Homo sapiens: one gene and its partner. The protein of the gene in region 1 purifies or fractionates together with the protein of each later gene. This does not show direct contact. Each region holds a gene or a part of one and is shown on either strand. Other genes may lie near its edges.

The links.
Region 2: the proteins of UBXN2A (region 1) and UBXN10 purify together in Homo sapiens (affinity purification with mass spectrometry, with the first as the bait; one large-scale study listed by BioGRID). This does not show direct contact.

What each region holds. Positions count from the first base shown.
Region 1 is NC_000002.12:23,981,683-23,985,709, forward strand, and holds part of UBXN2A (UBX domain-containing protein 2A), read left to right. Parts: intron 1-1,213; coding exon 1,214-1,351; intron 1,352-2,990; coding exon 2,991-3,149; intron 3,150-4,027. UniProt on the Homo sapiens protein: Acts to repress the ubiquitination and subsequent endoplasmic reticulum-associated degradation of CHRNA3 by the STUB1-VCP-UBXN2A complex in cortical neurons.
Region 2 is NC_000001.11:20,189,096-20,192,595, forward strand, and holds part of UBXN10 (UBX domain-containing protein 10), read left to right. Parts: intron 1-1,451; 5' UTR 1,452-1,466; coding exon 1,467-2,309; 3' UTR 2,310-3,500. UniProt on the Homo sapiens protein: VCP/p97-binding protein required for ciliogenesis. Acts as a tethering factor that facilitates recruitment of VCP/p97 to the intraflagellar transport complex B (IFT-B) in cilia.

The DNA of each region.
Region 1 (4,027 bases):
TAGGAGCTCAGGACCAGCCTGGGCAACATGGTGAAACCCCATCTTTACAAAAAATACAAAAATTAGCCGGGCATGGTGGCCTATAGTCCCCGCTACTCAGGAGTCTGAGGCAGGAGGATCGCTTCAGCCCAGGAGGTCAAGGCTGCAGGGAGCCATGATTGCACCACTGCACTCCAGCCTGGGAAACAGAATGAGACCCTGTCCCAAAAACAAGAAACTCAAATTATTTATTTAACAGAGATATCCAGTCTTTTGGCTTCCCTGGGCCACATTGGAAGAAGAATGGTCTTGGGGCACACATAAAATACTAAAATACACTAATACTGACGATAGCTGATAAGCTTTAAAAAAATTGCAAAAAAGTCTCATAAATCTCATAATGTTTTAAGAAAGTTTTCCAGGCACGGTGGCTCACACCTGTAATCCCAGCACTTTGGGAGGCTGAGGCGGGCAGAACACAAGGTCAGGAGATCGAGACCATCCTGGCTAACACGATGAAACTCCATCTCTACTAAAAATACCAAAAAAAAAAAAATTAACTGGGCGTGGTGGCAGGCGCCTGTAGTCCCAGCTACTTAGGAGGCTGAGGCAGGAGAATGGCGTGAACCCGGGAGGCGGAGCTTGCAGTGGGCCGAGATCGTGCCACTGCAGTCCAGCCTGGGCGACAGAGCAAGACTCCGTCTCAAAAAAAAAAAAAAGTTTACAAATTTTTGTTGGGCCACATTTAAAGCCGTCCTAGGCCACAGATTGGACAAGCCTGGTGTAGTATATAGTCATCAAGTATTTCATGACTTTAGTACTATTTTAGGTACTGCTATAAAACTCATGCTGGTTGGGGGGCAGTGGTTCACGCCTATAATCCCAGCACTTTGGGAGTCTGAGGGAGGAAGATTGCTTGAGCCCAGGAGTTCAAGACCAGCCTGGACAAGACCCTGTCTCTACAGAAAATTTAAAAAATATATGCTTTCACAATAAAAAATAATAAAAACTGATGCTGTTCATGAGCTTATGGTCTTAAAAATTATATTCCTGTGGGTTTTTGGTATTCATATTATTTAACTACATTGTTTTGAATACATTTAGTTATTTCATTGTATAGAATATTATATATTTCTGTATATTTCTACATATTCATTTTTTGTATGTACAGAATGTTTTTCAGAGAAATAAAATACATTGGGAGCTTTATCATTTTCTTTCTTTGTTTTCCAAGGGAATTACCTTCAGAATTACAGGGAATTTTTGATAAAGAAGAGGTGGACGTTAAAGTTGAAGACAAGAAAAATGAAATATGTTTGTCTACGAAGCCTGTGTTCCAGCCCTTTTCAGGACAGGGTCACAGACTAGGAAGGTAAATATGCCTATTGTCTTGTTTTGCATAGATCAAGGCTTAACTAATATTCTGTCTATCAGTATTTTACCCATGTAGACCACATGAATGGAGCTTATCATTTCTCCCATTGGAAATCAGATTTTTTTTAATGTTAATTTTTATGAGGACACATAAGTCATAGTTACCTAAGTATATATTAACAATGCCTGGCCAGGCATAGTGGCTCATGCCTGTAATCCCAGCACTTTGGGAGGCCAAGGTGGGCGGATCACCTGAGATCGGGAGTTCGAGACCAGCCTGACCAACATGGAGAAACCCCGTCTCTACTAAAAATACAAAAAATTAGCCAGGCGTGGTGGCATGTGTCTGTAATCCCAGCTCCTCGGGAGGCTGAGGCAGGAGAATCGCTTGAACCTGGGAGGCAGAGATTGCGGTGAGCCGAGATCGCGCCATTGCTCTCCAGTCTGGGCAACAAGAGTGAAACTCTGTCTCAAAAAAAAAGAAATGCCAGCAATACAGTAAAAAATCATGCAGGCTTTTTTGTTTTTCTTTTTTTCAAATCAAAAGGGCTTGGCTTATTAAGGACAGAATTCAATAGTTAAGTTCTTTTGTGTCCCTTGCACTCACCACTGTAGAGTACATGTACTAGCTTTTGAATATTATTGTTCTCTTTTTTTTGAGACAGAGCCTCACTTTGTTGCCCAGGCTGGAGTGCAGTGGCATGATCTTGGCTCACTGCAACTTCTGCCTCCCTGGTTCAAGCAATCCTCCTGCCTCAGCCCCTCTAGTAGCTGGGATTACAGGCATACACCACCACGCCCAGCCAATTTTTGTATTTTTAGTAGAGACAGGGTTTCGCCATGTTGGCCAGGCTGGTCTTGAACTCCTGACCGCAGGTGATCCACCCACCTCGGCCTCCCAAAGTGCTGGGATTACAGGTGTGAGCCACCGCACCCAGCCTATTGTTCTCTTTTATGGTTACCACTGTCTGCAACATTTTGTTCTGTGATCTATGTATGAATTTTGAGGTAATAAAAATGAAAATCAGTGTCAGTATCAAAGCCTTAAATTATTTTCAAGTTTTACAGTTTCCATCCTATCTAACAGAATATGCAGAGAGATTATATAGATATGAGAGCTCTTTGATTTTTATAAATTCTCATATTTTAAATTATCAAGATTGGTAAGGTGCATACATATTCATCCACACATACAAATATATCTGGATGCATCCTTCAGAATGATCAGGAAGTACTTTATTTAGTTTCTTTTTCATTATAACCTAAGGACTAAGCTCAATAAAGAACTTATAATTTCTTCTAGAAATTTAACCTGGGCAGTAGGTAAAGGTAAAGTCCATAGATCTATGAACCTTCTTTAAAATTATCCATTCTGTAAAGCACTACTCAAATAATACCAGTAATAATATATGTAGCTTACAAATTACTCAGATATGTATAACTTCATCAGATTCTTAGAACCATCATATATTGTGGACATAAATAATATATCTTTCTGTTATTACTGAAGAAACACATATAACTTAAAAAATCTTCCTTAAAGTTATACTTGCTATAATATTTTTATAGTAATTATTTAATAATAAAGTTTTATTGAATGGAAAAAACGTCTAACTTTGTTGTCTGGATTTCCTTAGTGCCACACCAAAAATTGTTTCTAAAGCAAAGAATATTGAAGTTGAAAATAAAAATAATTTGTCTGCTGTTCCACTGAACAACTTGGAACCCATTACTAATATACAGATCTGGTTGGCCAATGGAAAAAGGATTGTCCAGAAATTTAACATTACTCATAGGTGAGTCTTCAATTTCAGTATTTGATATTTTTTCACCAAGTTAAAATTTCATTTTTTCTTTTTGGTTCAGTCAACAGTTTATTTTTTAGAGATAGAATCTTTCTTTGTTGCCCAGGCCAGAGTGCAGTGGCACAGTCATAGCTCACTGCAGTCTTGAAGTCCTGGATTCAAGCAATCCTCCCACCTCAGCCTCCTGAGTTGTAGAACTACAGCCACATGCCACCATGCCCAGCTAACTTTTTTTTTTTAATTTTTATTTATTGCCAGCTAATTTTAAAAATTGTTTTGTAGAAAGGGAGTCTCACTGTGTTGCCCACACTGGTCTCAAACTCCTGGACTGAATTCATCGTCCTGCCTTAGCCTGCCAAAGTGCTGGGATTACAGGCATGAGCCATCGCATCCTGCCAAGCATTTTATTTATTTATTTATTTTTTTGAGTCGGAGTCTCGCTCTGTTGCCCAGGCTGGAGTGTAGTGGCACGATCTCAGCTCACTGCAACCTCTGCCTCCCAGCTTCAAGTGATTGTCCTGCCTCAGCGTCCAATGTAGCTGGGATTACAGGTTTGCACCACCAAGCCCGGCTAATTTTTGTATTTTTAGTAGAGACGGGGTTTCACCAGGAGTTTGGCCAGGGTGGTCTCAAACTTCTGACCTCAAGTGATCTGCCCGCTTTGGCCTCCCAAAGTGCTAGGATTACAGGAGTGAGCCACCTCGACCAGCCTGGCCAAACATTTTAATAAATAGTTCTCTAAACATAATTATGTCTAGACAGTTTTTTTTTTTTTTTGAGGCAAGGTCTCACTCTGTCACCCAGGCTGGAGTAGAGTGGCGCGAGCCACCGTGCCCAGCTGATAATGGGTATTTTTAAACATTGAATGA
Region 2 (3,500 bases), on another chromosome or scaffold:
AGTGATTGCCCCTTGATCAGGTAGCTAGCCAGTGGCAGAGAAGCTGAAATTGAACCCACACTTTGTGACACCTGGTCCTCTGTCCTTTGCTCCCAAATATGCTGTTTCTTGGGGACCATGAATCACTGGAAAGTCACCAGAAGGTCTTTAGAAGGCTAGGAGAGGCCAGGTCAGCTTTCAAGCAGAGAAGGCAGGAGTCACAGTGGTGGTCAGGATTCAGAGGGAGGCAGGGAGCCCAATAAGATGTCTGCAATGTTTAGGGAAAGATGGAACTGGAGATTGGGAGGAGGAGGTGCTGGTAGTAGTGTTAGTGAAGTGGCCACCAAGATGGCAATGAAAGAGGAGGTGTCATGGTTTAGCAATTCCGGGTCTGCACAGAGAAATGTTCACGCCTCCCACCATGCTTCAGTTCATTGCTCCTGGTGGATTTAACCAGCACTCACACAGACTTTTGGTGGGAGATCCAAATACAGAGGCCCCAGGGTGCCTATCGGGTAGCTGGGAAGACAGAAGTCTGAACAGCTCGGGAGGCTGAGGCACAAGAATTGCTTGAACCTGGGAGGCGGAGATTGCAATGAGCTGAGATGGTGCCACTGCATTGCAGCCTGAGTGATGGAGTGAGACTCTGTCTCAAAAAAGAAAAAGAAAAAAAGAAAAAGAAAAAAAGAAATGTGAGCAGCTAGCAGACATACAGAATGTGATGTGCTGGGCTCAGGAAGCAGCTTGTATGGGTACAGAGGACACAGGATCGGGTGTCACAAGACCTGGGTCCTATCTCCAGCTCTGCCACCAGCTGGCTGTGTGACCATTGGGAAATCACTCTACCTTTCTGGCTCATACATCTGTAGAATTAGCATGCGCCCAGAGTTGCTGTAGGACAGGGACCAACAAATGATGGCCCACAGCCCAAATCCGGCCCGTCACCTATTTTGTGTGGCTCATGAACTAAGAATAGCTTTCACATTTTTAAATCATTGAAAAAGAATCAAAAGAGAGTATTTTGTGACACATGAAAATTATCTGAAATTCAAATTTCAGAGTCCAAAAATGAAGTTTTACTGAAACACAGCAGGTTTTCTGGTTTTTACCAGAAACTTCCCCCCTCCTAAAAGAATAAGAATTAGTCCCCCACCTTAATCACGCTCTGGTGCAATAATTTTTATTTTCTTCATAGCGGTTGTTACTCTTTGAAAATATCTATTTACTTGTGGGTTTTAACCCCTGTCTTTCCTCACTATAATAATTTACATTGCAAGGACTTCGGTTTGCTGATCTCTCGCAAGTGCCTAAAATAAATGAATGCATGCCTGAATGAATAAATTGCAGCTGGTGCCCCTTACTAGATGCCAGAAATTTGTGCTTATTCTGGGCACTCAGGGAGGGAATGGCTTGGATCTAGGAGTCCCAGGAAGTTTAACCCACGGACTCCTGTTTTTTTCCTGCTTCCTTAGGGGTCTTGAGAAGCAATGGCCACAGAAGCCCCTGTGAATATAGCACCACCTGAGTGTAGCACTGTTGTCAGCACAGCAGTTGACAGCCTCATTTGGCAGCCAAACTCACTAAATATGCACATGATAAGGCCCAAGTCCGCCAAGGGACGGACAAGACCGAGTCTGCAGAAATCCCAGGGCGTGGAGGTGTGCGCTCATCATATACCATCTCCGCCTCCAGCCATTCCCTATGAGTTGCCAAGCAGCCAAAAACCAGGAGCCTGTGCACCCAAATCTCCAAACCAGGGAGCTTCTGATGAGATCCCTGAGCTGCAGCAGCAAGTACCCACTGGGGCTTCCTCTTCTCTCAATAAGTATCCAGTCCTTCCTTCCATCAACAGAAAGAACCTGGAGGAGGAGGCTGTGGAAACCGTTGCCAAAAAGGCCAGCTCACTGCAACTGAGCAGTATCCGGGCTCTTTACCAAGACGAGACGGGCACCATGAAGACAAGTGAAGAAGATTCCAGAGCTCGAGCTTGTGCCGTGGAGAGGAAATTCATCGTCCGAACCAAGAAACAGGGCTCTTCCAGGGCTGGAAATCTGGAGGAACCATCGGACCAAGAACCAAGGTTGCTGCTTGCTGTTAGATCACCAACAGGCCAAAGGTTTGTACGCCATTTCCGGCCAACAGATGATTTGCAAACCATTGTTGCTGTGGCCGAACAGAAAAACAAAACCTCCTACCGACACTGCAGCATTGAAACAATGGAGGTGCCCAGGAGGCGATTTTCTGACCTCACCAAATCTCTGCAAGAGTGCAGAATCCCCCACAAGTCTGTGCTGGGCATCTCACTGGAAGATGGGGAAGGGTGGCCCTGAGTCCACAGCCACCCAGCTGAGGTCCTGGGTCTCTGAGCAAAGGAGCATGCTTGGGCGTTGTGGCCTCTTAGGCAGCCTGTTTCAAGTGCCATGTGGACCTGGTGCAGCTGGGAAGCTTGGGACTCTCGTCTGCACTGCGTGTCCTCTGAAGCAGTGAAGTCTGTGCCTATGCCGAGCGCGCTAAGAAGTCTCCCTTCCAGCTGTTCCATTCTCTCCACCACCAGCGTAACTGGCAAGTTACCAAGGTTGTTCCTGAAACAGCAGTGATCATGACTTCTCCTTTCCAGAGTTTTGGGTCCTTCTGAATTAATGGTCCTTTTCGAACACCGGCTTGCCTTTACAGTGAACTGTGATTCTCTCGAAGCCAATGCTTTCCTGTCTGTATTTGATGCAGGATTAAACACTTCCCAGAGAGGATTCTAGTCTGGTAAATAACCACAGTGTAGGAACTATCTAACTGGCATTTGTGTTTCTTGCGAGTATTTTGAAGAAACAGGCCGTTGACCCCATCTTTGGAAGTAGCCCTTTACCATGCATGGTCAGTTTCTTAGGGATTTACTATTTGTGTGAGGTGGCATCTAAGGGAAGAATGGGTTTTCTTCCCCAAAACATCAGCATTTCTAAAATAGTCCTAAAGCTTGAAAGTAAGTTGCTTCCATGAGCATGGATTACCCAGTAGCTACTTTTTAATAGAGACTGACTAGGTTTACAACTTCTGGGAGCTACTCTGTGGGCTGAATTCTTCCAAAACCGAGAAAAGCCAGTGCAGTCTGATTTCTTTTGCTTTTGTCAGTAATGGAATCTTTTGTTTTTAAAATGTACAAACCTATAAGTTTAAACAGGTTTGTACTGACAACCTCCTTGGCTTATTTGGGGGTGGAGCAATTGTTTTATTCCCCAGTTTCAGTGCGTTGCCCACTTCAAACATGGTGTGTCCTTTGGAGCTGTGACAGAGGTGCCTGTTCTGACTTAGAACCTCTGGAGGAGGAGGGGGGTGCCTTGGTCTCGTGTTACTTTGCTGTGCCTGTGCTGAGAGACCATGTGCCCGAGCATCTGGTTGACCGGCATGAAGTACATCAGCCTGTCTTAGCCTGAGCTGCTTTGAAGACCATGGGGTCTTGTGTTTCCAACTTCGAAGTGCTGATGTGGACAGTTTGCCAATGTTCTCTTCTATTGCAAGTTCAGCCAGAC